4 linked regions of the Homo sapiens genome follow. The protein of the gene in region 2 interacts with the protein of the main gene of each other region in a pairwise test. Each region holds a gene or a part of one and is shown on either strand. Other genes may lie near its edges. The genes, in order: TRIM26, BEND7, FAM133A and TLK1.

Region 1 (7,432 bases), on a different chromosome or scaffold from region 2:
GGCAGGGAGAAGTTCAAGAGCCGGGGCGTCGGGGAGCTTGCCCGGCTGGCCCTGGTCATCTCCGAACTGGAGGGCAAGGCGCAGCAGCCAGCTGCAGAGCTCATGCAGGTGAGAGGCCGTCCCTGGGCAGGGCGCCAGGGACCAGGACGGTGGGTCCCAGCCCTGCCATTCACTTGCAGGACCTTAGAAGACTTGGGGGCTCAGTTTTGTCATCTGAAACATGGAGATGATAATCCTTACTGCTGCCAATTAGTCTGTAGATTGCATGAGCATAAAATGAAATAACTGGCATGCTGTCACTTCAAAAAATAAACTTTTTACACAAAACTGTTCAAAAAACTAAATGGTATAGTAGAAAATGGAAGGGAAGATTATTAATATCATTTACCATCCTCCATCCTCATCACTGCCATCACAAGCCCTCTTAACAAGTCATTGGCAGACACTTAGCAGCTGGTGGAAGCTTTTTATGGTGTTGTGGTTGGGGGTGGCTGAGGGAGGGCTGACCAGCAGCTCCTCTCAAAGACCCAGAGGATCTGGAAGAGATAGGGTAACTGGGGAAGGGAGACAGAGATGGCCAGGTTTTCTTTGGCCCATGGGATTACCACACAGAGAACAAGATGGAAAGCAGACAAGGGGGCCTCGGGGCACCTCCTAGAGGAGGGGGCTTTGATAGTGAGAAAGGGAGGGTTTGGGGCTGAAGAACTGGCTGTGAAGCTGAAATGGCACCACATCTCCTCCCCCCCGGGAGCCTCTGGGGATCACACTTACCCTGAAGAGGGCCCAGTCCCCTTTGGAGGGGTAGAGGGCTCAACCTTCCTGCTCTCATAGGCTGGGAGGGGAGGGGCTCTCTGATGGTATTCCCCCACTTGCACTGTTTAGGGTGGCTGGGTCTGTCTGTCAGCAGCAGAGCCACCCAGGATCTCTAGGAAGGTGGAGTCCCAGGCTAATGGCAGGGCAATAGCTAGGAGGGAGAGATAGCAAGGCAGACTCTGCAGTATGTGCACTGGGACAGACTGCAGAAGGAGGCGGCCACCTGCTCCTCATTGTTGTGAATTCAGATGTACAGAATGAGGACTGGCAGGGATTTTAGACCTTCCAGTTCAGCCCCTACTGATGAAGTCACTGAGGTCCAGAGAGTGGGAGGAGTTTGTCCCAGGCCATGGGGTGGGTGTCAGGTCACAGCTTGAGCCCAGATGTCCTGACTCCTGGGCTCTGAGCTCTTGTTCTTATTTTGTCCAGAATGTCTCTCTGGCCCCCTCTTTTCCTCCAGATGTCATTCTGTTCTCTCAGATTTCTCTCGTCATACTCTTTGACTGGGTCATTTTCTGCATCTCCTTTTGCCCGTTTCTCTTCTCCTTCCTCTCCTCACGCCCCTGCCATGTGTGAATGCCTACTGTGTGGAACAGAGGCACACAGCTGAGGATGTGGTGGGGCTGAAATCCATTGTGTTTGCCCGGAGGGGTGCCTTTTCCTAATGCACCCAGAGAAGTGGCCCTCAGAGCAGAAGCCTGGCCCTCAATGACTCAGAGCACTCAGATTGCAGCTCTCCCTGGGGTGGGATAAGGTCAAGGGAAGGGAGAGAAAATGGTGTCAGCTTGAAACTAGTATAGGAAATGTTATTGGTACTGGTAGGTTTCTTTTTTTGTTTTGTGTTTTCTCTTTTAATTTTAGTGCTATATAATGTATATATTTATGGGATGTAGAGGTTTTTGTTTGTTTATTTTTGAGACAGAGTCTCGCTCTGTCTCCCAGGCTGGAGTGCAGTGGCGTGATCTCAGCTCACTGTAATCTCCGCCTCCTGGGTTGAAGCAATTCTCCTGCCTCTGCAACCTCTGTCTCCTGGGTTCAAGCGATTCTCCTGCCTCAGCCTCCCAAATAGCTGGGATTACAGGCGCACATCACCACACCTGGCTATTTTCTGTATTTTTGGTAGAGTCAGGGTTTCACCATGTTGGCCAGGCTGGTCTTGAACTCCTGACCTCAGGTGATCGCCTGCCTCAGCCTCCCACAGTGCTGGGATTACAGGCGTGAGCCACTGTGCCTGGCCTAGAGTGATACTTTGATACAAGTATATAATATATAATAATCAACTCAGAGTAATTAGTATATCTGTCACCTCAAACACTTATCATTTCTTTGTGTTGGAACATTCAAAATCCTCTCTTCTAGCTTTTTGAAAATGTATAGTAAATTATAGTTAATTATATTCTCCCTGCAATGCTGCACAACACTAGAATTTATTCTTCCCATGTAGCTATAACTTTGTATCTGTTAACCAACTTCTCCCCACCCTCCTCTCCCCAGCCCCCTTCCCAACCTCTAATCATTACTATTCTACTGTCTTACTTCCATGAACTCAAATTTATTATGGATGAATAGTACTCCATTGTGTATATATGCTACATTTTCTTTATCTATCTGTTGATGGATGCTTAGATTGAGTCCACATCTCAACTATTGTGAATAGTGCCACAATAAACATGAGTGTGCAGGTATCCCTTTGATATACTGATTTTCTTTTCTTTGGATAAATACCTAGTAATGAGATTGCTGGATCATATGGTAGTTCTATTTTTAGTTTTTTGAGAAACTCTCATACTGTTTTCCGTAACGGCTATACTTATATGTAGAAAAACCTAAAGGCCCCACCAAAAAACCCTTAGAACTAATAAACAAATTCAGTAAAGTTGCAGGATACAAAATCAACATAAAAAGTCTACTGCATTTTTAATACACCAATAACAAACTAGCTAAAAAAGACATCAAGAAAGCAACCCCATTTACAATAGCTACAAAAGTAAAATAAAATACCTGGGAATGAAGTTAACCAAGGAGGTGAAAGACCTCTTTAATGAAAACTACAAAACACTGATGAAAGAAATTGAAGAGGACACAAACAAATGGAAAAATATTCCATGCTTGTGGATTAGAATTAATATTGTTAAAATGACTGTCCTACCCAAAGCAGTCTACAGATTTAATACAATCCCTGTTATCAAAATACGAATGACATTCTTCAGAAAAATAGAAAAAAAACTAAAATTCATATGGAGTCACAAAAAACCCCAAATGGCCAAAGCAATCCTAAGCAAAAAGAACAAAACTGGAGGCCTCACACTATCTTACTTCAAAATATACTACAGCCAGTTGTGGTGGCTCACACCTGTAATCCCAGCACTTTGTGAGGCCGAGACAGGCGGATCACGAGGTCAGGAGTTTGAGACCAGCCTGACCAACATGGTGAAACCCCATCTCTACTAAAAATACAAAAATTAGCTGGGCGTGATGGTGCGCACCTATAATCCCAGCTACTCGGGAGGCTGAGGCAGGAGAATCACTTGAATCCAGGAGGCAGAGGTTGCAGTGAGCCGAGATTGTGCCACTGCATTCCAGCCTGGGCAATAGAGTGAGACTCCATTAAAAAAAAAAAAAAAAAAATATATATATATATATATATACACACACACACACACACACACACACATATATGTATATATATATACACATATATATGTATATAGATACATATATATGTATATATACATATATATATATATACTACAAAGCTGTAGTAACCAAAACAGCATGTATTGATATAAAAGCAGACACATAGACCAATGGAACAGAGTAGAGAACTCAGAAATAAATTCACATATTTACAGCCAACTGATTTTCAACAAAGGAACCAAGAACATACAATGGGGAAGGGACAGTCTCTTTAATAAATGGTGCTAGGAAAACTGGGTAACCAACCATACGCAGAAAAATGGTATTGGTAGATTTTGTCTGTGTGCTTATTTGAGTTTGATTGTACTGCGTGGGAACTGGACAGCTACCTCCCTAATTAGCATTAATATTTTCCCAGAGATTATTTGGCTGTCAAAGTATAGTAAGAAAAAGACCTAAAATAGGGTCCAGAAGTCTGATAGAGAAATACAGGTGAGGCTGGTGTGGTGATTCACACCTATAATTCCAGCACTTTGGGAGGCTGAGGCAGGCAGATTGCTTGAACCCAGGAGTTTGAGACCAGCCTGGGCAACATAGTGAGATCCTGTCTCAAAAAAATTAAAATAAAATAGAAATACAGGTGAGAGGGAGAAGCAGCAGGACAAAATGTGTAAAATAGAAGAGACCTTTTGATAGAGGTGATAGGAAAGGAAAGACAAACCTATGGGCTGGGAGCATCAAGAAGACATTAAAGGGATTGGGGTGACAGGAGAGGCCCAGAGAGACACTGCATCCTGCCCTGGTAACCCGGGCAGGCCCTGCAGGATCAGGTGGCATGCTTGTACCCTGCTTCTCCTGCTGTACACCCCCGTGAAGAACTTTCTTGATGCTCTCTCTTAGTAACCGGGCACATCCCCTCCGGGAGCTTGCCATGACTCATTGCCGCAGCCCCACTGCTCGGCTCTGCCTGTTTCATGACAGCTTCAGATGTCTTGGGTGAGAAGAGTCCTCCAGGAGACTTGGGCGGATCACTTCCCTCCAGAGGCCCTGTATGTGGCTGTGGATGGGGGCTCCTGAGTCTTTCAGCCTCTTCTCCTCAGGGCCAGCCCTGCCCTGGCTCTCGGGACCCACCCTCTCTGGGCTGCTCACAACCTTTAACCTTTAGAGGACTCTTCTTTCTCCTGTATGATTCTCTCCCTTTCTACTGTTCTAGGAACTTCCATGTCAGGAAATATGCCCAAATGGGCCTCTGGCCCACACTCCAGCTACTGCTCCATTCATTTGCTCTTTTATGCCACCTTTGTCAGCAGAGCTGTCAGGACACACTGTCTGTTTTGTTGCCTGTCCTCTGAAGCCGCCTTGGACTTACATGTTTTGAGGGGCATGTTAGAGGACTTGGCCAGAAATGTGCTACCAGTCTCTGGGCACTTGCTTCATAGCGGGGGGTTGGGATGTGCCTCTGACTTCTTGTCTTATTCCTCTGGAGTAAAGCTCACAACTCTTCCCAAACTTTTGGAAGCAGTCATCAGCAGCCACAATTTGTTAATTCCATTTGTTTCCCAAATCTCACCCTCTCCAGGAAGCCAGCCTGCACCCCACCGGCCCCTGCTCCCATCCCCCTTCACTCTGCTCTCTTTTCCCGTGGTGCGTATCACTCACGTAGTATGATGTATTTGCTACATTGATTATTGTCTGCTTCCCCCTGCTAGAATGTCAGCTCTACAGAAGTAGGGATTTGTCTCTCTCTCTCTTTTTTTTTTTTTTTTTTTAACTGTTCTGAGGCTTCTAGATGAGTGCCTGGTACCTAGGAAGCACTTAATAAATATTTGTGGAATGAGTGAAAGGAAGGCAAAAATCAATTAATACAGGGTATTAAGGAGGCTTTTGACTCACAAAAGGGAATCTGAGCATGTCAGAATAGCCCTCTTCCCACTCACCCTGCCCTACCACCTGTCTGTCACAGAGATAGCACCACCATTCTCCCCCCTGTACAAACCATGCTCTGTTCTTGTTTATCCTTGACCAGTATGTCCAGTTGAATCTGTCTCTAAAATACCTGGAATGTATTGCTTCTCTCTTTTTCTCCCTACTGCCACCACCTTAGTTCAGGCCATCTTTAGCTCTCCCCTGGTCCACGGCAAAAGCCTCCGGACCAACCTCCCCATGTTCCTCTTGCCTCCTTAGTCCCTTCTCTGTGGGGCAGCCAAGTGAGTGGTCACTTAGGGTTTTGGCTCACTGCTGTACAGTGACGCAAACAGAATAGAAGTTTATTTCTGCCTCAGTTAACAGTTCAGAGGTGCAGGGTCTAGAGCTATCACAGTAGCTGTACATAAGCTTATCCAAGGGACTGGGTTACTTCCATGTGGTTCTTCCACCAGCTTCTAGGGATGTTGTCCTCTGCTGCGTGGTCAAAGTTGGGCTCACCACCACCATGTCCAAAATTCAGTTGGGGTAAAAAGGAAGTAGAAAGCAATTTTCTTTTTTTAAAGGACAATGCCCAGAATTATGGTCATTGCTTTCTATCACATTCCATTGGCTGGAACTTAGTCTCATGACCAGACCTTGTCGTAGGGGATCTGGAAAATGTAGTCTTCCCAGGTGGCCGCCTGACCAGCAATAACTCCGGGGGTTCTATTATTAAAAGGAGGAAGGGGAGAGTGGACTCTGGAGGTTACACAGCAGTCTCAGCCACATGTAGAGCGGATCACACATATCATGCCCCTACTTGAAACCCTTGGTGGGTTTCCACTGTACGTGGAGCAAAAGTGAAACTCCTTACCATGCATATCCAGCCCTGCGCAGTCTGGCCTCTGCCGTTCTCACCAAGCCCTTTCCTGTTTTACCTTACCTCTCTTCATCCGGCCAGTACTTCTTATCCGTCAATTCTCTGCGCAGGTATCTCCCAGAGAGGTTGCCCATGTCATCTCCCAGCCATTGTGGCTTCTGTCATTGTGCCGATTTTGTTTGTTTTCTTGTTGTTTTATGCAGTGACCCCACTGGAATGTCAGCTCCATAAAAAAGGGACCACATTTGTTTTGTTCACTGATATGTCCCATCTCTGCTACAGTGTTGGGTGCAGATGCATTGAAGTCTTATTTGATTCATATTGATACTTGTGCTTTTTTCTTTCCCTTCTAGGACACGAGAGACTTCCTAAACAGGTAAAAGAGTCTCCTCTCCATGGCGTACCTCATCCCCCTTGTTTATGTTCCCCCGCTTCTGACCAGGTGCATTTGAATTCATGGGGAGTGGTATGGTGCCAGAGGTACTCACATCCCATGGTTCATCCTGATGCCCTTCTGAGGAGCAGGACACATCATTGAGAACTGGAGACTTGCTCTCCTCCTTATGGTTCTCTGTGTAGCCCCAGCTCCTTGGCCCACTGGCCTTATTTGAGGTGGGACAGAGCAGAGAGGTTAGAAACATGGCTTAGTAGACAGAGCGCCCTGGATGTGGAGTCTACTGATGTTCTGAAGCCCTGGTTCAGCTGGTGTCTTTGGGCCACTGTTTTTCTGTCACTTGTTTGGGGATAATCATACCTTTCCTCTCCCCTTCATAATTGCCATGAGGATTGAGAGATAAGTATGAAGGAAAGTAAGAAGAGCTGAGTAACAGCTTGTTATGTATGTCATCTTCTTAGGTATCCACGGAAGAAGTTCTGGGTTGGGAAACCCATTGCTCGAGTGGTTAAAAAAAAGACCGGAGAATTCTCAGATAAACTCCTCTCTCTGCAACGAGGCCTGAGGGAATTCCAGGGTAAGGGTTGGGGAGCGCACAAAGGGTGGGAGTCAGAGCAGGGCTACCTCGTAGAAAGAGCGCACCCAGCTCCTTTCCATCACCTTGTCGATCCTCACTCTTCTGAGGGCCTCTTGTCTTAGACATGGATCCCTATCAGGAAATTGATACTGCCCGAGCAAGAAATGGGCTCATAAATTTTCGGGACTTGAGTCATTGCTGTCCTTTTTTCTCCCCAGGGAAGCTG
Region 2 (7,963 bases):
ATGGATTTTTCTCATTTGCAAAATTGGAATATTAATATATACCAATCTCATAGAACTATTAAGAGTTAGATAATGCATACCTATGCTTGAGCTGTAAAAGAAGCCCCATATAAAATATAAGGTAATATTATTTGTGGAACATTCCAACTCTCATTTTCACTTATGAAATATCTTATAAATACTGCCTCCTTTCTCTTAAATTACAATCACCAAAACCAATGAAGTAAACGGGTGTAGAAACTGCATTAGGCCAGCAACACTTGGGAAACGGCAGCTAAAAGGAGGGCATCTATTCCTTCCATGACCGTCTGATGGGTGATTGTCCTAATGTTGAAAAGTGGATATTTATACATATTAAATCTTCCTGAAGGATTCCCAGAATCTATTTAATGACAGGATATTCAATTCCAGAAAATCCAATCAAAGATTATAAAAAGCCTGAAGCCCAATAATTCCATTCTGCTCATCTTCTTTCTGAGGTGTATTAATAAAACAGTTAAACAGTAATCAAGTTGTAGACATACTACATCTACGTACATAGCATGGTTCAAATCATACATTCCTTCTAAATCTGAGCTGCCCAGTATGGTCACCTGTAACTACATGTGACTATGGACAATTTGAAATTTGGCTAGTTTGAATTGATTTGTAATCTAAGGGTAAGATGCATACCAATTTCAAAACTTTGTATAACAAAAAGCATATAAACTATCTCAATAATAATATTCTCATATTATGTGTCAAAATGATAATATTTTAATGTATTCAGTTAAATAAGATAAATTATTAAAATGAATTTCATCTGTTTATTTTTACTTTTTTCAGTGTGGCTAATAGGACATTTTAAATTACATACATAGCTTGCATTGTATTTCTATTCGACAGCAGAGCTCTAAATAAAGATGAAACTTTTCATAATGCTATTCCTCTCAGGACAGTTTTCAGGAAGAGCATTTCAAGTATTAGCGGTAAGGTTACTTCAGGTTTTCTGGCCAAATTATCTGGCTTTGTCAAAGATTGAAACCAACATGTAATCTTTATAATCAAGTGGGTTTAAGCATGGCCATATAATAAAATGTTTGCCCTGCGTGATGTCATTGAATATTTGACCAATTATCTCTGATCTCCAGTAACACATAAACCTGTGGTTCTGGAACTTTAGGGGGCCTTTAAGAATGAGGCAAAGAGTGCTAGCTTCGGCAGCACATATACTAAAATTGGAAAGAATGGGGTAAAGAAATGACTTCAGTAGATCCCCTAGAAAACTTTCCAGGACCCCTCAATACAGACATTATATTTGAGTGAAAACAAGATGGCTACAGACTGATTTGTGTCCCCCACAAACTCATATGTTGAATCCCTGACTCCTAACGTGACTGTATCTGGAGATTGAACCTTTAATAGAAGGTAATTAAGGTTAAAAGAGATCATAAAGGCGGAGCCCTAATTTGATAAGATTGGTGGCCTTACAAGAAGAGGGAGAGAAAGACAGCTCTCTTCCTATGCCATGTAAGTGTAGTGGTGTGCAAGCTAAGAAAAGGGCCCTCGCCAGAAACTGACCCTGCCAGACCTAGATCTGAAACTTGCAGCCTTTAGAATGGTAAGAAAATAAGCTGCTGTTAAGTCACCCAGTATGTGGTATTTGTTAAGATAGCCCGAACAGGCTAATACAGTAGTCCCCCTTTATCCATGATTTCAGTTACCTGCAGTCACCTATGGCCTGCAAATATTGAATGGAAACTTCCAGAAATAAACAATGCATCAATTTAAAATTGTGCCCCATTTTGAGTGGCATGATGAAATCTTTAGCCAACCTGCTCCTTCCGGCCCAGAATAGGAATCATTCTTTAGCCTAGCGTATTCACATTGTCTGCACTATCTGCTCGTTAGTCACTTGTTGGCTTGGTTATTAGAAAACATAAAACAATAAAAAACACGGTATATATGGGGTTTGATGGTAACATAGTATATACGGGGTTCGGTACTATCCTCAGGTTCAGACATCCACTGAAGGTCTTGGACATACTCCCCAAGGATAAGGATCAGCTACTATATGGATACCTGCTACTTAAAGCAATCTCACTTTATGTTTTATTTTATATTTTAATTTTTTGGTAGAGACCGGGTCTCAGGATGTTATCCAGGTTGGTCTTGAATTTCTGGCCTTAAGCAATCCTTCTGTATCCCAAAATGTTGGGATTACAGGTGTGAGCCACTACACCTGGCCCCAAGCAACCTCATTTTAATTAAACATTATTATTAATTTTAATACTAAATGTGATATATACATTTTTGTTAGATAAGAGCATAGTGATTTGCACAAAATGCAGAGTAAACAGACATTTATTTTCTCTAAAAGCTAATAAGACAAGCGTAGCCTGTGTCCTCTGCAGGCCAACTCACTCATAGACCAACTTTGGAAAGCCAGGTTAAAAAGGGTCAAGGAGAAATGACTACTATTTAAAAATATTCTTACTCAAATATTTTATTCTTAACTATATCAAAAATATTCTCTTCAGTAAATGGAATTTGCATTCCCACTTGAACTGAAAATGCTAAGTTGTTAATACCTTCTCCAGGGATTTACTTCTTGGGATGACACCTTCACTGGGTTCGTCATAGTTTAAGCATAATAAAATCTCATTATATGCTCCAAAGCATGAACGATCCGGGAAGTTCCTCAGTCAGTGTAGAACTTAGCCTTACGGCTTTGAGAATAACATTTTAAAAGGCATTACATAAAGAAAGAATGGATCCCAGCCTGGGGAACAAAATTGCATGCTTTGTTTCTTTAAAAACATCCAAAACAGCCGGACGTGGTGGTTCACGCCTGTAATCCCAGCACTTTGGGAGGCCTAGGCGGGCTGATCACTTGAGGTCAGGAGTTTGAAACCAGCCTGGCCAACATGGCGAAACCCCATCTCTACTAAAATACAAAAAATTAGCTGGGCGTGGTGGCCCATGCCTGTAATCCTAGCTACTTGGGAGGCTGAGGCAGGAAAATCGCTTGAACCCGGGAGGTGGAGGTTGCAGTAAGCTGAGATCGCACCACTGCACTCCATCCTGGGCGACAGAATGAGACTCTGTCTCAAAAAATAAAAAATAAAAAAAAATCCAAAACATCTTCAGATTTTAATGCCTGATTTTAAAGAAAGGGGTGGCAGGGAAGGAAGAAACCCAAATAGGGTAGTTGCTTTAATCACTGTTACCACTAATTTTCTGAGAGCAGCAAAGCGCGTCTAAGAACTCCAATAAATCTATACTAAATTTTATATGTCCCATACATATTTTCTGGGAAAAAGGGCCCTTGAGCTTTGAACACAATCTCAAAGGAAACAGTGACTAAAAAAGGTTAAGAACCTCTTGTTGAAGGGTTTGCTTTATTGAACGGAAGAAACAGTTCTCCCTCTCCCCTCCACGCTAGGTATAACCAGCCTTCCGGATGTGCCGCCTTTGGTATCACCCAAGATCTCGGGATGGGTACCCATCCCTGCCTCCACTGCCTGGTTTGCTGGTTACCCTGCTCTTTGGTTCTGTTTCTCCATGTGTGTTTCTGCAAGCTGCCTCAATGTCCCCCTTCCTCGGCAGTTGTCCTACTCTGTGTCCCTGAAATAAGAGCGGTTCCTCAGCGGCTGCCTCATTTGGGTGAGACCCACGTGACACTCATCACATTTGTCAACCTCCCCTTTTTCCTCTCTACTCTTTTGGGGCCACTGGCCTTTGTCCCGTGCCGGAGAGGTAGCCCCCCCATCCCCCGACTCTTTACCCTCTTCCTGGTTGGGTTTGGCAGATACTTTCACGCATGTCCCGTCATGTTCCTGTCCTACCATTCCCAGGTAGTGTGAAATTCTTTTCCTGGCCCACTCGAAAGATGTGAGAAAGAAATGGTGCCTGAAGTGCGCTCTCTGATCCCCCGAAAAGAATATTACACATAACTACTAAGCGCTTTGTGTTTGGGTCCATGATTCCGACATATGACGTGGAGAAGCATAGTGCCCTGCACCTGCCTTGACCATGGCCTCCTGAGAGTCCCCAGGGCCACCAAGCCCCCCATTCCAAGTGCTCTCCTTGAATGTGACTCGGCTCTTTCCACAATCCGCCCAGCCTGGGTTAGGGAATGGGAGCTCTCTACTATATTCTTCTCCACAATATTCTAAAACCTCCTCTCTGTCCTTCTAGAGAGAGCGCAAATGGGTAAGTTTTTTCCCCCTAAAACTTGCTTAAAATCAGCGCGTCGGGCCCCGGGGCGCCCGGGATGTGAGGGCGGGGAGGTGGTTGTCGGGGCGGTCCGCGCCCCCACGGCGAGGTGCACGGAGTTAGCTCGGCCCAGCAAGCGGCGGAGGGAGGCCAGCGAGCGGGGTCTGCGAGCGGAGGCCCGGGCGGCGGCGTCGTCCCCGGGGGCAGGCAGGCCGGCCGGGCCCGGGCCAGGGCGCTGCGCCGCGGCCTCCGCGCCTCCTCGGGGCGCCGCGCGGCCAGGCCGGCGGCGGCCCCCGGGGATGGCGGCGGCCGGGCTCCGCCAGCAGGTGGCCCTGGGGTCCCAGCGGCACCGCCCCCTCCGCCGGCGCCCCTCCTCCCGCGGGGGCGGTCAGCGCCCCGGCCGGCTCTGCACCCGCCGCCGCCCTCCCCGCAGCCCGCCCGCCGCGTCTTCGGGGCCGCCGCCGCCGCCGCCGCGACCGCAGGCTGAGCCCAGGCGGGCCGGCCGCCCCGAGCCGCCCCCCGCCTCCGCCGCCGCCGCCGCGCCCCGGCCCGGCCCGCTCCCAACGGAAAGTTGGGCTGCGGCGGGCGGCGTCTGGAACCCGCGGGCCGGCATGAGCGGGGGCCGCGGGGGCGCCTAGGGCACCGGGAGGCGGCGCCGCGCGGGGGCAACTTCGCCCGGGAGCCCACGCCGCCGGGCCCCGCGCCTGCAGCCCCGAGCCGGCTCGCGGTGGTTCCTCCCGTCCCGCGGCCTCCCCTCGCCGACTCCAGGCGCGGACCTTGGTCCCGGCGGCTCCGCCGCGGTGACACGAGCCCGCGCCGCCGCTGCCGCTGCCGCCGCTGCCGCTGCCGCCGCTGCCGCCGCCTCCTCAGCCCCCGCCGCCGCCTTCCCCGCACCATGGAGTTCTCCGAGAGGAAAAGAAGCAGGAAATCCCAGAGCTTCAAACTGGTGAGCCGAGGTAAGCGGCCGCCGGGGCGGCGGGGGCAGGCAGCGGGCGCCGCGCCCTCGGCCGCCCGCGGGGGTCCACGCTGGGGGGCGCGCCCTCCCGGAGCCCCCGGTCCTTCCCGGTCCCCCGGTGCCTCCGCCGGGCTGGCAGGCAGGGCCGCGGCCGCACACGCCGGGCGGCGGGGAAAGTTGTGCGGGGGGAGCAGGGATGTTATTTAACGTAAACAAGTCGGAGGGCAGCTCAGGAAATTAGCAAACAATGACACCGGGGGGCCCGAGCCCTCCTCGGGGCGCCTCCGGGGCAGGGCTGGGGCGGCCGCGGACCTGCCTGGCCATCAGGCCGAGCGTGGACCCTCGGACCTGAGATTTGCTGTTTTTGTTTTCTGGGGTCTTCCCCCTTCCCCCCGCCAAGAGAAGGAGGAAAAAGGATGACCGTTGTTGTTCTTTTTAAGAAGGAGAAAGAAGCTCACGCCGTGTCCAAGCCCAAGGCGGAATTGTTGACATCCAACATCTCTAGCTAGCTGATTTGGGTTGGAAAGGTGTTTTAGACTAGATCATATAGCAGTCAGATAAGCATCCTTTAAAAAAAAGAAAAAAGAAAAGAAAGAAAAGAAATCCATCTAGTTTCTGACGAATTAACAGGTGTACACCACACTCTAGGGTTTGTATTTTGTCAGGGAGGGGAAAGTGGAATACAGTCTTGTCTGTGTTCAGTTACTTGTTAAGAGTCTTTATCTTCCTGATTTGACTTTTTTTTTTAAAAAAATGATAACTCAAGAGCCATCGTGAAAATATATCTCAAAATGCATTGTCATCTTTAATTAGGGGCAGGTGACTTTTTTCATTGTAATGTCACAAGTCCTCATATTGAGTTTAGACCCGCTCTGTTTAAATGTCGTCTTTTAATCAAGTTGAGGTCAAAGCCAAACCCCAACCTGTCCACTTTTCCTCTGTCGTTTTCTCTAGCATTGGCATCAGGGTAGAAACTCCAACAACCTGCAGAAGTCACGTGTAAACTGATGAAAATTAGTGAAAAAATCGTGGACAATTGCAAGTAATCGAATTTTTCAAACTGAGCTAAGCTAGCTAAGATGTGGATTTGGTTCATCTGAAAATGCTTTGATTATAGGCATTTTGAAGATCCATTCTTATCTGCCTCCCCTAATTTAGTTTGGATACTGTTTAATGAAAGAGGCCTGAAATAGTTTCACGCATTCAAAATACTTGGCTCTTCCCACTTTCTGAGTAAATTTTTTTTTCCACATCCGTGTTGATTACTCAGTTACTTGGACTTTTAAAAGTCTCTGTCTGGGTGATTGCCCTGTTGGTGCTATCTGATTCATTCAGGAATGTAAGCTGCTTTCTTATTGATGACCTCAGAGAACTTAACTGCTTTATCTTAAAAGTGAGAGTAGTTTTGTTGACTTTGTCCTGTGAGGTCTAAGGCCAGAGAAAGGGGACTAGGTGTTAAGGAGGAACCTCTATTTTCATGCCTTAGTGACCCTGCTTTTCAAAAATAGAAGCAAAAATGCAGTAGCCTCCATAGAGAAGCTTGTAAAATACTGTATTTGAAACTTTGACTGACGTAGCAAGTTTTTCCTTTTTCCTTTTTTCTTTTTCTTTTAATTATAGGTCTGATTCTTCTCTTTCTCTGCAGGTGCAGTTTTAGAAAATAAACTTGCATATTAAATAAAGTGCAGTAGCTGAATGCGAAAGAGTCACTTGTGTGAAAGATGAAAATCTTGCTTTCTTATCCAAATCATACTACATTTGAAATAACAAATCAGTATTTTTCATGTGTGCTTGCCTTTAAGCTGCTTAAAGGCTGAGATTTTCTGGGTAAACTGAGAAAACTAGAGTGCTGGCTAAACTTTAAAGCATACTGTTGATATGCTGGTGAAAATGGGTTGTGAAGAGAAATTTGGAAACCTCCCCTGCTCTATGATTGGGCAAACATACTTGCCACCTCAAAGAAAAAAAGCCTAAAAATTGGCATCTGTGGGTACAATTTACCGTGAACATGGTGTGATCAAGCAAAGCTGTCTTCTAAAGCCAAAGTAATCTTTCAAGTTTGCGTACTCCAGAATAAGCAAAGTTTTAGGAATTATTATTGACTACAAATTCTGTGATTATTTCAGTTCTCAAAAAGTTTATTTATAAATTATAGAGTATACAAACTAAATAGAATGAGATTCTAGACTTGACTGCTTATTCCTATCTTGAGGTCCTTAGGATTCTAATTTTTGGTTGTTTTCTCATGCCAGATTATCACCACGAGGTGTATAAGATCCCAGAATTCAGCAACGATGTTAATGGGGAGGCCAAAGAGACACAGCCCATTTTTTTAGGTAGGTTCCTATGTCAATTAATACCTCAGCAAAACATCGTGACCATTTGCAATTAGGGGGAAAAAAGGAAATTGTTCAGGAACGGGAAATGTCTGCCATTGCTTAATGTATGACATTCTTTTCAAGACCTTTTATTTTACAGATTGCCAATATATCCCTTATTAACATTGCTAAAAGTTGTAATTTCAGACATAAATGTTTATTAGTGTCTACACACAGTGCTAATTATCACTCACTCACAGAGCCAGATGCTGACTGTGCAGTTTTGTGGCTCTGCGCTCACCCCATTTACATTGCATATTCGTTGGCATGCTTCACTGGCAATAGTTTGTGTAATTGGGGTATTACATCTTTGACATCTGGATAACAGAAATTCAATTTCCAGGAAGCTGCTATTTGTTTGGTTTTGCTTCTGCCTTGGGTGGGATAGAGGATTAATGTGCTGTCTTATAATGTCCCTTCACCTCTGTGGCCC
Region 3 (7,432 bases), on a different chromosome or scaffold from region 2:
AACCAGTGCAAATACAATGAGTATTTCCTTCTGCTATGGCATAATGATCACTTCTGAGTCAATCTGTAGACTACAGAAGAATGTGATAGAAGAAGGTGAGTTATTTTATGTAAATAATGAAATAGATGTTCTAGAGTTCTATGTTATTGGTCAGATTAGGTTAGGTGATTCCGCAGTAATAAAAAGACCCCAAATCACAGTGGTTTAACACATAACAGTTTATTTCTTACACTTAAAAAGTTTACTGCAAGTCCATCAGCACTCCAGTCAGGTCCCTTCTAAACAGCGACCTAAGGACCCAGGTTGCATCCGTCTTGTAAGTATGCCATTTGGAACATCTTGCTTTCAGGTCACCATGACAGGCAAAAGAAAACTGGAGGGTCATGCAGAACTTTTTACAGTCCAACATGGAAATAGAAAATCACTTCTGTTTACAATCCCTCTGCTTGAAGTAGTCAAATGGCATTGCCTAACTACAAGAGGTTTGGAAGTGAACAGGAGCAGATAGATACATGATGAGCTGTAAATGCTTTTGCCATATTCTACAAATAATATAAGCTTATAAAAAGCATTTTAATGAACAATTCTGAAAAACTCTATATGGATACAAAATATCCCATAAATGTAATAGTTTTTATCAGCATAAACATATATTTTTAGGAAAAAGCTAAAGTTATGAAGCTCCAAGGTAATCTAACATGGCATCACTATAATGTTCCAAGAACTTTAATGAGAGATTCCAGTATTTCCAATGCAAAAAATTTGGCAGCCAACATGTTTATGTAGATGTTTTTTATCTTTATAATTTTACTTGTGATTGAAGGTAGCCGAGATAAAATCTGCTATTGAAAAACAATAGCTATTGAGCTTTTCATCATGCCAAAATACTTTGTACCTATGACATTACAATTAGCACATCCTCCATCACAGGTGGTTTTGAGACACAAATTTATAATTTATGTTACTCTGATATATAAAAATGTAAAGTAAAAATATTTTTTCACTTATTTTTACACTAGTGGTAAAAGTGAATCAGCAACAGATACAAGGCACCAAATTGTAGGAAAATACGGACACAGGAAGATCAATGATGTCATTATCATCTACATTTAACTTCTATATAAATTCAATATTAATGCTTAAGACAACAATCTTTTCAACAACAATCTTACTAAGATTTTGGCAGTAGTTTCATGTAACATACGGCGTACTAGAGGTCTGGCACTCAACTTGCGTACAGTAACCAGCTTCAATATGAAGGCATTACATATTTTTTAAAAAAAACCTTTTCACATGCTAAATATTTTGGCAAGGGTGCAATTAAACACAGTAATGAAATTAATATAGCAAGGCTAAGAAACTAAAAACTTGAAACTTATATCCTAAGCATAAATCATATCTTAAAAAAGGATCATCAGTTATATAGAATATGGTCAGATAATTAAAACTTAACAGTATAAAACATGCAAAAAAAATTTCAGAATATTTCTTAATCAAACAACATCAGGGTCTGTTTAGAATGGTTCCCATACAAAATGGGTATAAAGTTATTTCAAATCATGTAATATTGTAATACTAAATATTATTCAGTACTGTATAGTAAACAGTGCTGAAGAAGAGGTAAATTTCATAGATATGGGGGCTTACTTATGCTGTAAACTCCTGTCCTTCTTGTTCACTTGAAGCAGCATACAACACCCCAGAATTTCATAAAGTAAGAAAAGGACGGCTGCTGCTCTGGCAAAAATAGGATGTGTAAGAGTCAAAGGCACACTATTCAGCTAGCCACAGTGATTAGCAAACACTTGCCCTTCCCACCCCACATGCTCTTTCCCCATGTAAACAAAGATTCATTAAAGAAAAAAGGAAAATGAACTAAACTTATTTACAAAAGCAAGGAATTTGAGACATCAATATTAAGTCCTTGCATCAAAAATACCAACTACAATTGTCTGGAAATTACATTTATGTTTCATTGATGGTGATATTTCAAAGATGTATTCGAATTAGATACATTTAACCTTAGATACACTTTTTTTTGTCAAAGTTATTCATTATCTAACACATTTTACTTTAATTTCAAACATTTTATTCACTGGTATGACAACAGAATTTTAGCTCTCAGAGGAATTAACCATTAGAAGGAAGGACAAGCAAACAAACAAAAATGTATATTGAAGTTGCCAGCAGCCACTATGCCCCTTACTGGCACAGTGGGATTTGATAGGCAACTCAAAGTCCAGAAATAATTCTACTAACACAGGGGAACTCGGCAAACTCATTCTTGCTTTTTTTCTTGATGTTACCTTGACTTGTGACTTGATCCAGACTTCTTTTTCTTCTTCTTACTATGTTTCTTGTGCTGTTTCTTCTTCTTCTTCTTTACTTTTTCCTTTGCTTGTTCTCGCTCTTCACACCTTCTCTTCTTTTTTGCTTGCACATCCTCTTCATAATCTGATTCAGATGAGGACTCAGATGATAAAGGTTTATCATCAGGGTAACTTTTCTTTCTTTTTTTGCTGAGGCTTCTTACATCCTTTTCTTTCTCTGTTTCATCCTTTGACTTCTTTTTCTTTTTTACAGACTCCTTGCTCTCTGATTCTGATTCATGCGTAGAGCTTTGGGATGATTTGTATGAACGGTTCTTCTTTTTCTTTCTCCTTTTTCCTTGTTTCTTTTCCTCATCCTCAGAATCTGAAGAACTGCTTGAAGAATCAGAGCTTGATGAAGAAGATGAAGACCGACAAGATTTCTTCTTTCTCTTTTTCTTTCTTTCTCTTTTTTTAGATGAGCTCTCATTTCCACTTAATAATTTCTCTCTGCTTTTTTCAAGTTCTTTCTTCCAATTTTCATTCATTTTTTCTTCAAATTCAGCTAATGCTTTTGAACCTGTTTTTTTATTTTCTAATTGTTTCTTTACTTCTTCCCAGGTGGGTCTTGGTCGATTTAGATAATCTTGGATTGTTGGGCCCACAGATTGAGTTGGGCCTCTCCATCTGGCCATTGCTATAGGATTCATATAGGCTACCCGATTATCCCGCTTCCCCATGGTGCCTGATGTTTCCAAGGGCAGACTCTCAGTTGCCAAGGAGAACAAAGATAGATACTCGCCTTAAATTCTTTATCTAGTGAAATATCAAGCAAGCTCCATTCTGTAAGAGAAGCAGATGGAATGATTACAAATCACCTTTAATATAAAGACAAACAAACATATAAGCTTAATTGTTAACACTGCCTATCACACAGTACAGTAGAAATTTCCAAAATCTTATACCATGGGAACAAACAATATACACATTTTAAAATTTTACATATTATAGACACTGTGGTATAAACATAATATAAACTAAAAGTGTTTTATATACCTCATGTAAGATTCTGACAGATACCTAAAATATTTAATAGCCATTTTCTCTTACATTGTATGATACTTAACTTTTTCCTTTCTTTCATTCCTGCTTTATATAGTATATAGAGAGAAATTTATAAAACTAAAATCTGTACCAGACAGACCTTCGCCAACTCAAGAAAGTGCAACACAACCCTCTCCATTCCTTTTGACAGAAGCCCAGGAGTCATAACTGAGAAATCCTTCTCCCTCAACGGTCAAATCCAATACATTACTAAATCCTGATATTTAAACCTCCACAATAGGCCTCATATCCATTCACTTGTCTCCAAATATACTGTCATCAACTTAGCCCAGGCCACTATCATCTCTCGCTTGGGCTATTAATCTCTAGTACCTAGTAAGTGTTTATTCTCTGTCAAGGACTGCTTAGTGTTTGCAATGGATTATCTCATTCAATCTCAAGGCCAGACCTATGAAGTTGATCCTATCATTGTCTCTATTTCACAGATAGATAAACTGAGGCTTAGAGAATTAGAGTAAAACTCAAAATTTGAACATGAAGTAACATGGCTAATAAATGGCATATCCAGGATTTAAACAAAGGCAGCCTGATTCCAAGCTGCACAAATAAGGCAACACCAAATTGTCTCCTTACATCAACCTCTTAATAGGTAGCATTTTTCCAACCTTACTCCCTTTTATTCTAGTCCCACACTGTAAACAGAGGGATCTTAAAAAACTCCAGTGGTTTTATATTTTAATGAAAAACAAATCCAATCTCCTATAAGGTCCTATATGATCTGCCCTACTTCTGTCTCTTACTTTTGTTTTGTTTCACTCACCTTTTTTCTCAATTCTTTTCATTTGGTTCCTGGAACATGCCGAATTATAGGCTTAGCCAGCATGGCCAATTCCACCTCATCCTTCAGGTTTCAGCTTAAATGTCAATTCCTCAGAAAGTCAACCATTAGGTTAAACTATGTAAAACTATTTTATGGGACACAAACAGTTTAAAGATCAACAACTTTTTATGGCTCAACCTTATACTAAAGTGGTTTGCCTCTCTGTCTACCCCTCATCCTCATTTTTCTGTATGATAGTTCATCGTTTATTTTATTTGTAGCATTTATGAAATTGGTAATTATTTTATTTGTGATTATTGCGTTATACATGTGTATCCACTGCTAAATGTAAGACCAAGAAGGGTAAAGGTCATGTGTGGCCTATCTTATTCACCACGGTGTTCCCATTACCTGACATAGAATCTGATCCATATTAAGCACTCAATAAATATTTTCTCAATAATAAACAAATAAATAAATGCATGGATGGATGGATGGGTAACTCTGAGAGAAAGGAGGATTCAGAGGGAGTGTCCTGGAGATGGTGATGTCTGTATAGGGTCTTAAGGAATGAACAGGCATTTACCCAGAAAATGAGGAAATTAAGGACAATCTTGGCAGAGGAAACATGAGAAAAGAGCAGCAGGTATTTAGAGTTGATGGAACCTAAAGATCAAGAGGGCAGGGGGAAGGAGGTAAGTTTGCAGAGATAAAAAGAAGCCTAAATATGGAGGCCCTCTTAGGTCATTTGAAAATCTTGAATTTTGTCCTATAGTTGATACAAGAGCCAATAAAGTCTTTTATATAGAAGAGAAAGACGATCAGACATATAATAGATTTTTCTATCAATCTCCATCTTAAATCTGATCCTTTAAGTCAACCTAACATACCTACCCATCATAAGCTCAATGCTATAGACATTTCAGTGACTCTTGGTGATAGTTTCCAACATCTTATTTTCTGTGTTCTTGATCTTATTCTCCTTCCTCTTTATTTATAGGCAGCCCTTTTAGGTCTTTCTGTAATTTTCATTCTTACTCTTACCCTAACCACGTCTCAAATATCATTGTGTCTCTGATTTGACCATTCAAAACTCTTAAATACTTCAGTTCATATTCAACTTGCAGCTTCTTTCTGTTACTTGACACTTACAATAGAATAATCCATTCTAATTTCAGTCCCTTGAGACCTAGTCCTGACATCAGCTAGAAAGATAGGCGAAGGCCAGTTAACAAAGGCTTTGGGTGGTATGCTAAGGTGGTTGGAATCTCTCCTGTGGGATTTACAGTGAAGCTAACGGGGAGACACTATTTTAAGCAGAAAAATGATATGGTCATATTTGAGTGTTTAAGGACAATTATTTGCCCAGTGACAGACGGATTGAAGTCAGGTTAAGACAGAAGGCAATGGGACCACTTAAAAATTCATGTAGACAAGAAATGAAAGAGTCTGAACTCAAACAGCAACACTGTGAATGAAAAGAATGAGAAATATATGAGACATGTTGAGAAGATTCTATTGAAATTAGTGACAAATTGGATACAAAGGATGAAAAAGAGAAAGAAATCTGGGGTAAGGCTCTGGCTCGACACATTAGACCAAAGGCAATGACAATGACTAGGTAATAGAGAAAATGGCACAGACTTCGAGAAAAGGTTCTAGTTTCCATTTTGGACTCCTGAAGTTTGAAGTGCCTATGAGATTTATGGACAATTATCCATGTAAGAAAGAGGATGTATGGGATTTGGCACTTTGGAAAGTGATCTGAGTTAGAAATACTGAACTGGCAGTCGCTGAGTGATAGCTAGGGTCATGAGAGAAAACTAAATTATTTTGCAGGGAAATTTCAAGTGGAAAAAAGTTTGAGACTGGATCCAACTGAACACCAACATGCAAGGGGTTGGCAGTGAATGAAAAACCTACAAAGTATGCATTAAGAAATTAGCCAGAGTAGTAAGAGCTGGACCAGTATCAGAAAAGAAAGAGTCAAGAAACACAGGGTGAATAAAGTTTCAAGGTGAGCATAAGAATCCTTATGACTCTGTAATGTTTAAATTTTCTACAAAAAACAAGTATTATCCTTACCTTTGAAAAATTCATAAAAATAGAAAAGATTTGTTACAGACAACAGTATTAAATGCAGAAGATCAGTCAAGTTCAGATCTGAAAATGTCCATTATACTTAGCTATCAAGAAGTCATTAGTAACCTTTGCTAATGCAATCTCAGCTAAGTGGTGAAGGCACAAGCCAGGTGACAGTGGGTTAAAAGACTGAATTGAAGGTGAGAATGTAGAGACCTAGAGTACATAGTCACAGTCAATACGGAAAGTAAAGAGATAAGAAGGCAACCATGAAAGATGCAGAGTTAAAATTCTTTTGTGTTTTTTTTTACATGAAAGAAACTTGAGCATATTCATAGGGCATCTAGAAGGATAAAGTACAAAGAAAACATGTTTTAAAAACCTAGGTAAGAGAAGAAATAACTAATGTGGCAATATCACAGAGAAAACAGAAAGGAATGAAATTAAATTCAGAGATAGAAAGAATTTCTTCCCCCAAGAGCAGAGGCAAAGAATAAAGACAGGGAATGGATGCAGGATTTTTTGTAGGGTGGTAGGAGGTAAAAGGGAGAAAGATGAAGTATTTCTCACATAATAGCCTTCATTTTCATTCAGTGGTAAGTGCCAAGGTTGTCTGCTAAGATTAAGACAGGAGTTTTGAGACCAGTAATTAAAATTTGGAGTAACAACAGAGAATGGGAGAGGGTGTTGTCACCATGTAAGTGTTGCTGGAGTTCTTCTGAACTGAAGAATCTGTATGATCCTTTCCTAGAAGATAAATCAAATTGAGAAAAGAGAAAAAGTAACACCAACAAAGTCTCTTGCTCAAATACTCTGTTTTAAAAGCACTGTGGCTTATCTTCTCTGTTTCTATTATAGAACAAAGAGTAACTTGATTTTCTGTACATCTACTTATTTTCATGAAATATGCTAAAATCCTGTAAAGGTTAGATATAAATTGTGACAATCATGCTAGTAATCTGGATATTATAATAATATTTGTTCATTGATTCTTACAATTCCCTTTTGATAATCTATTATGTGCCAAGATACTATGCAATGGATATTACAGTTTAGTAAAGGTAATAGTTATTACACAAATATGAAACAAATGAGTATATAATCATAATCATGACTGGGGAGATGAAGGAAAAGTACAGGATGCTATGAAAGAAAC
Region 4 (7,432 bases), on a different chromosome or scaffold from region 2:
AAAAAAGAAGTACTTGTCTTTTGTTTATTGATTATATGTCCTCATTATAAAAAAGGGTTTGTTGTGGCTTCTGTTGTCTTATTTCCAGAATCCAAAGACTGTCCTTGCCACCTGCACAGTCCCTGTGATATTTGATACCTAGTCACCATTAACCAGTCCAATACAAAGAGTAACAGCTATTTAAATCAAGATAGGCAGGTAGCCATTTAATACAGTACACTTATAGAAAGATTGTACCCCTTAATTAAAAAATGTCTGAAGTATTAACATGTCCTGAATTTATCCAAATTTCTACCTATGTCAAGTCCGTTTCTCAAATGCATATGTATAAATGTAGCATTTTTACTCCCCATGTTCACTATTTTATGCCTTTCTTTTTTTTTTTTTTTGTACTTTATGTTGTATCTTTTAGCCTAACCTTTAAATATTGGATTCCTAAGGTCCCTTTTATCATTCTGTATTCTCCCTTAAGAAGGTTTTTATCCTCTCTCATTCACTGGGTTATCTATTTGGTGTCACCCCCAGGTAATATCTAGCTCACACTTTCTTCCTGAGTTCAATACCTCAAAGTATGTTTGTATACATGACTTACCTCATGTGGGTGCTTCATAGGTACTGGAAACTCACATTTGAAATAGAAGTTATCTTCCTCTCCTCTAAAATGTCTTTTAACACTGCTTCTGACTTCCCTGACCTCAGTATATAACATTGCCATTCATCTGCCTGGTCCCTCAAGTGAAAAAACACAAAAACCATCGTATGCTCTTCCTTTCCCTTTGTTCCCCTCCCCTCACATATTATAAGCCCCTAGTTCCTGCTATTATTAATGTCATTAAGTTCTCCTAAATTCAGCCATGACCCTTCCCTTCTGTCTCTTAGCTCAAGGCTTCTTCCGGAACCTCATAGCTGATTGTCTTCTTTTGGGCATTGCTTTTCTCAAGTCATTTTGTACACTGCAACTAGAGTGAACTTTTTATAAAAGGCAGCCTGATCATCTGTCCTACTTGAAAGCCCCAGTAGCTTCCCATTTGCTCTTGGGATGAAGTCCTAGTGAAGGGTTATATGCTCATCTTTAGTTCCTCTAAACAGCTTCCCTGACCCTCTGCATCTTCTCTGATAGATTTGGTGTGCCTTTTTATAAGCTCCTTTGTGCTTCATTACGTACTGGCATAGTTGGTTAAAAGCTTTGGTTCTGAAGCCAGACAGCTAGGTTTAAATCCTGACTGCTATTTACTAATTTTATTAATTTGGGCTTCTTATTTAAATCCCTGTCTGACTCATTGGCTCCTTCTGAGAATAATAACAATACCTACATTATAGGGTTGTTGCAGTGATTAACTGAGTTATCACATGTAAATCATATAGAACATAGGTGCTGAGATAAGCTGATAAGATTATTAGAAATCCTGCTTGTTGGCCATGGCTCACACCTGTAATCCTAGCACTTGGTGGGGCCAAGGCAGGCAGATTGCCTGAACTCAGGAGTTCAAGACCAGTCTGGGCAACATGGCGAACCCGTTTCTACTAAAAATACAAGAAAAAAATTAGCTAGGCATGATGGCACATGCCTGTAGTTCCAGCTACTCGGAGGCTGAGGCATGATAATCGCTTGAACCTTGGTGGTGGGAGGTTGCAGTGAGCCAAGATTGTGCTACTGCACTCCACCCTGGGGGACAGAGGGAGACATTTTCTCTCAAAAAAAAAAAAAAAAAAAAAAAAAAAAGGAAAAGAAATCCTGACTGTTGCATGGGACAAAGACTACACCCTTCTCGTTTCTGCTTCTGACTTGGAAAAATTATGGGATTTGAGTTAAGAGAACTTCAGTTCTGGTATCAGTTCAACCATGCACTATTTTTTGTTAACTTAGATAAGCATTACACGTCAGGGTCCTCACCTTCCTCATTCATCAAAAGTGATCTTTGGGCTCTCTTCCAATTCCTGTTTCTCTGATTCTAATAATAGTTTATCCTTAAGCACTTAATGGGTGAAGTAGGCTTACCATAAGGTAGAAAAGATTATCATGATAGTTCAGCTGGGATCTAAAAGTCACTAAAAGTGCAGTTAGCATTAGCGTGGCCTAAAAGTTGTTGAGCTTATGAACTTACCATGAGCCTTCATAACAACCCTCTGCTACTGCCTGGTTGTATTTTAAATAACTATTTTACCCTCATAGGTGAGGACTTTTGTAGAAGAGGCTTACATAGAGATTAGAAAGTGCAGATTGGGGCCCAGTGACTTGAACTTTCTATACTGACCTAAATACTAGTGACATCATTCTCTAAGCCCTTTAAAGCCCTTTCATGATTGCCAGTTCTGTTGGGAAACAACTAGACAAAAAGCAGATTGTAAGTCAAGAAGTAAAGAGTTGTATTTTATACCAGGATGGGAGATGTTGAGTCAGTTGCTGAGTGATTGCCATATTAACCTTATGGAAAGGTATACTTCTACTCACCTGAAATTTTGGGAGGAAGATGTGTTACATATAATTTATTATAATCAGTATACTCTGATAATAACTTTTTATTGCTTGCTTAGTTTTTTCTTCAATTATCCTTTACTATGATTGCCTTGAATTCTTTATAGATTTGTTCCGCCTTGTCCCTTATATAAACTTACTTTATTTTTATTCTTCTCAGTTTCTTTACACTTAACCCTTAATAATAATATGTAATTAGCTAATGTTTCTTGGCCGTACCATGTATTATTCTAAACACCTCATATGTTTTACCCCCATTTAATCCTCTCAATAACCCTAACTTTTGGGGCTCAGAGAGGGTATTAGCACAGAGTCACTCAGCTAATAAGCTAATCTGATTGCAAACAGAATATTCTTAACAACTGTGTGCTATATTATATCTGATCTCATACTTTTATAGTTTTGTACCAAAGTAGTCACTTTACTGCTTATCCCTTCCTGCTTATTTTTAGGTTAAATTGATGGGAGGAAATGGGGACCTTCTTTCTAATAAATACGTAAGCTTTTAAGTGAAAGGGGCACCTTTGTGTGTAAATCACAATGGAACCAAAATTATTAAATGTCTCTTTAATGGTATTCATTGCTTTTTAAAAAAACATAAGTCATGTAAAGCTGTTAAAATACTGATCATTCTGTGTTTTTAATTTAAGAAATAGGCTGGTGATTTGAACAAATCAAGTATAAATTCTTTTTGAGACAACCAGGGAAAATTGAAGACAGGTTAGGTATTAGATGAGATGAAGGAATTATTACTGATGTAGTTAGGTGTGATAATGGTATGTGGTTATTTTTATTTAAATACTGATGTGTTTACTGGGAGAAATAATGTATTTGTTTTAATAATACTCTGGTTGGGAAGGGTGGGATGCAAGGGTACTAGGGAATAGATGAAACAAGAATGGCAACATATTGGTAATTTTTGAAACTGGATGGTAGGGGCATAAGGGCACATTATAGTAGTCTACTTGTGTATATGTTTGAACAGTTTTATAATAACGAGTTTTTTTCAACAGTTGGAAAAATAACTGTTAGGAACTTTTTAATTTTTCTAAAAAGTGAGAAAGAAATAGGGGGTTGCTAGGAAAAGATAGATTTAAAAGGTTTTATCCAACCTACAAAAAAAGTGGTACAGTCATCTGTTTTCCTGGCTGCTTACTACTAGTATAGAGGAATAAGTCCATATTAAAAACAAATAATAGCTTTATTGTTTTATTTTTATTCAGTATATTGGCATTTATAAAATTTAATGTGAAAATTCACATTAAGGTTTTCTCTGATTTATTACCATGGAATTTCTGTCTTCTGATAATAAAAGTGTCATTGAGCTATATATAGTCTTAGCAGAGAAGATCATTAATAATTGTAGGGTTTGTCCTAATTCCATATTATTGCAAAAATTATCACCAAAATAAAAAACATCTCTTCAGCTATTCAATTGGTCTTTCATCTTAATTGTTTTTGACTTGAAATCCTAGGCTTTTGACCTTTATGAACAAAGATATGCTGCTGTGAAGATACATCAGCTTAATAAAAGCTGGAGAGATGAGAAGAAAGAAAACTACCACAAGTAAATACTAATACTTTATGGTTTTTTAAAATTGAATATTTTTTGAATGATCATGGAGAATTAATACACTGTCTTCTCATAGACATGCCTGCAGAGAGTATAGAATACACAAAGAACTGGATCACCCCAGAATAGTTAAACTCTATGATTATTTCTCCTTGGATACAGATACGTAAGTGAATATTAAGGTTCAATTTTTAAGGAAAGATATGCTTGCTTTCTCTTTCCCCATCCTGTGTTGATGATATAAATACTCTCCATTTCCCCATTGTGATTCTGAATTCTTGGATATTACTTATGTCTAATTTTTTTCTCTTCTCTGTTGTAGGTTTTGTACAGTGTTAGAATACTGTGAAGGCAATGACTTGGATTTCTATCTGAAGCAACACAAGTTAATGTCAGAGAAAGAAGCTCGGTCTATTGTAATGCAGATTGTAAATGCACTAAGATATCTCAATGAGATCAAACCCCCTATTATACATTATGATCTTAAGCCAGGTAATTATGAAATTTGTCTAATTTTTTTTAAACTTGAGTATAGTTTTTAAAAGTCATTCATTAAGTTATCTGAAAACATGTTTTTTGGTTTCTCTTGTAAGACATCAGTAAAATACTAGTAAAATTAAAAGTTATTAAAGTTATGTTTTTCATGTATGTATCATTAAAAGAATCTTATATTTTATTCTTAGGAAACATCCTACTGGTAGATGGAACAGCATGTGGTGAAATCAAAATCACTGATTTTGGTCTGTCCAAGATTATGGATGATGATAGCTATGGTGTAGATGGAATGGATCTAACTTCCCAGGGGGCAGGCACTTACTGGTAAGTGTATTACTAAAAACATCAGAATGTCTAGATTGGTGCCCAGTGCTTTTATAATAATTTAGTGTTTTTTTTTTTATTTCCATGTAGCCATTAAGATTACTGTGGTAAAGGTACTGATATTAAGCTCTCAGTTGAGAGGGAGACTTCTGTGGTCATTCCTCTTTTCTCATCTGTTCTTAACTGCAAATAACAGCATACTGGAGAGAGAATGACCTGGCATTAACAAGTGACTTCAGTACCTGCCAGTCAGAAACTCCTAACAGGAAGAATTCATTCATGGGTTTTCTTCTACAATGTTAGCGTGATGTTCATCATAAATATAAATACTTATGTTAATATAATATTTTAACTATTGCAAGCAAAAACTGCAAGCATCAAGCCCTCTCTGTGGAGGTTATATGGTTGCAGGAATTTTCATTTTATTTTGAGACAGGGTCTTGCCCTGTGCAGTGGTGTAATCTTAGTTCATTGCAGCCTCAAACTCCTAGGCTCAAGCGATCTGCCCACTTACTCTTGAGTAACTGAGACCACAGGTACGCACCACTATGCCCAGCTAATCTAAACTTTTTGTAGAGACCAGGTCTTAATTTGTTGCCCAGGCTGGTCTTGAACTCCTGGTATCAAGTGATCTGCCTCTCCCAAAGTGCTTGGATTACAGGCGTGAGCCACTGCACCTGGCTGGTGGTTTTTGTGGAAGATGGATGTTTTGTTGGCTGTGAATGGGAGATAAATTTGGCATATTCTTTGGACTTGACTTTCAGAAATCCCTTTTAAAGACTTGATATGTCTAGATTTAAATTTAGATATAATCACAGATTCATAGATATAAATCTAAATGACTGTCATCCCCTCAGTATACCTACGTGTTCACAAAAACTACTTCAGTGTGAATTTTCAAACTTGTTAAATTCACCAAAGTGGAGAACATAAACTATAAAATTTCAAAACAAACTTAGTTCTCAGAGAAAATTAGTTTAGCATAAAGAGTGACATTTTAATGGAAGAAAGATAACTGCGTTCAACTTCATTGAAACAGGATTGTGACTACAAACATAAATGTGACTTCAGGTTTTCCAGAACAGTATTCACACAAACTGAGCACATCATAACCACTTACACACGATGCCACTGTCTGTATAGATTTCACTTTTAATGAGCAGGGATTAGTCATATTCATGTATTCTTTTAAAGCCACTTTCAAATTTTAAATTTGGCTTGTGGCATTTCCTAGGAACATGGATAAGATAATAATGTCATGAATTTTTTCTTCATATTTTAAGAAAACTATTCAAACTGGTAACCCCCTGAAAGTCAATATTCTCAAAGTCTTTGGACTTTTTTCTTTTAGCAACAAGGCTCATTTTTTTTTTTAACAACAAAATCTTATTCTAATAAAACCAACAAAAACAAAGCATCTTGGTAGAATCTTAGATTCCATGGAAGATAGCTTGAAAACCATGTTCTAAACAATAAATTATTCTTCGTCTGCAGGACATTCTCATTATTTGTTTCTCTCTCACTCTGGCTTCACTAGTATAGGGAAGGACAAGGAAATTTCCCTTTTACAGATGTTCGAGGGACAAAGAGCTTATGTTTCAGGGGCTGTACTGGAAGGAGATACAATAATGGCATTGTTCTATAGGAACATGGAATGTATTTCTCATGGAAATCTGTGGTCCAAAAATTGGTTTATGTCTACAGTCATATTAGTTGTTTAGCTATGTACAGCTGACCTTGAATAATATAGGTTTGAAATGCATGGGTCCACTTTTATGTGGCTTTTTTTTTTCCGATAAATACATTGGAAAATTTTTTGGAGATTTGCAACAATTTGAAAAATCTCACTGACGAACCATGTAGCCTAGAAATATTGAAAAAATTGGCTGGACACGGTGGCTCACGCCTGTAATCCAAGCATTCTGAGAGGCTGAGGCGGGCGGATCACTTGAGGTCAGGAGTTCGAGACCAGCCTGGCCAACGTGGTGAAACCTCGTCTCTGCTAAAAATACTAAAAGTACAAAAGTTAGCTGGGCATGGTGGCCATGCCTGGAATCCCAGCTACTTGGGAGGCTGAGGCAGGGGAATTGTTTGAATCCAGGAGGCAGAGGTTGCAGTGAGCTGAGATCATACCACTGCACTCCTGCCTGGGCGACAGAGCAAGACTCCGTCTCGAAAAAAAAAATACTGAAAAAATTAAGAAAAAGGTATGTCACGAAGGCGTGAAATATATGTAGATACTTGTCTGTTTTACCATTTACTGCCATAAAATGTACACAAATCTATTACAAGAAGTTAAAATTTATCAAAACGTATACAAACACAGACTGTACCTGGTGCTATTTGCAGTTGAGAGAAACGTAAACAAATGTAAAGATGCCGAATTAAATAATAACTTCATAAAATTAACTGTACCACATACTGTGTACTGTAATAATTTTGTAGCTACACCTTGTTGCTATTGTAAGGAGCTCAACTGTTTTGAGTATCTGTTTAAAACACTGTGATGCTAATCTCCGAGCAATTAATCTCTCCAGTAAAAGGCCTATCGCAGTAAAAAGTAA

The links.
Region 1: the proteins of BEND7 (region 2) and TRIM26 interact in binary tests that used the Homo sapiens proteins (3 or more experiments, as listed by UniProt).
Region 3: the proteins of BEND7 (region 2) and FAM133A interact in binary tests that used the Homo sapiens proteins (3 or more experiments, as listed by UniProt).
Region 4: the proteins of BEND7 (region 2) and TLK1 interact in binary tests that used the Homo sapiens proteins (3 or more experiments, as listed by UniProt).

Annotation. Positions count from the first base shown.
Region 1 is NC_000006.12:30,189,192-30,196,623, reverse strand, and holds part of TRIM26 (tripartite motif-containing protein 26), read left to right. Parts: coding exon 1-108; intron 109-6,588; coding exon 6,589-6,611; intron 6,612-7,090; coding exon 7,091-7,206; intron 7,207-7,424; coding exon 7,425-7,432.
Region 2 is NC_000010.11:13,525,663-13,533,625, reverse strand, and holds the start of BEND7 (BEN domain-containing protein 7), read left to right. Parts: upstream 1-4,611; 5' UTR 4,612-5,092; coding exon 5,093-5,153; intron 5,154-5,443; exon of another isoform or gene 5,444-5,801; intron 5,802-5,822; exon of another isoform or gene 5,823-6,194; intron 6,195-7,404; coding exon 7,405-7,488; intron 7,489-7,963.
Region 3 is NC_000023.11:93,705,037-93,712,468, reverse strand, and holds the end of FAM133A (protein FAM133A), read right to left. Parts: intron 7,024-7,432; exon of another isoform or gene 4,195-7,023; intron 3,153-4,194; 5' UTR 3,050-3,152; coding exon 2,303-3,049; 3' UTR 204-2,302; downstream 1-203.
Region 4 is NC_000002.12:171,003,583-171,011,014, reverse strand, and holds part of TLK1 (serine/threonine-protein kinase tousled-like 1), read left to right. Parts: intron 1-3,951; coding exon 3,952-4,043; intron 4,044-4,125; coding exon 4,126-4,215; intron 4,216-4,371; coding exon 4,372-4,541; intron 4,542-4,732; coding exon 4,733-4,868; intron 4,869-7,432. UniProt on the Homo sapiens protein: Rapidly and transiently inhibited by phosphorylation following the generation of DNA double-stranded breaks during S-phase. This is cell cycle checkpoint and ATM-pathway dependent and appears to regulate processes involved in chromatin assembly.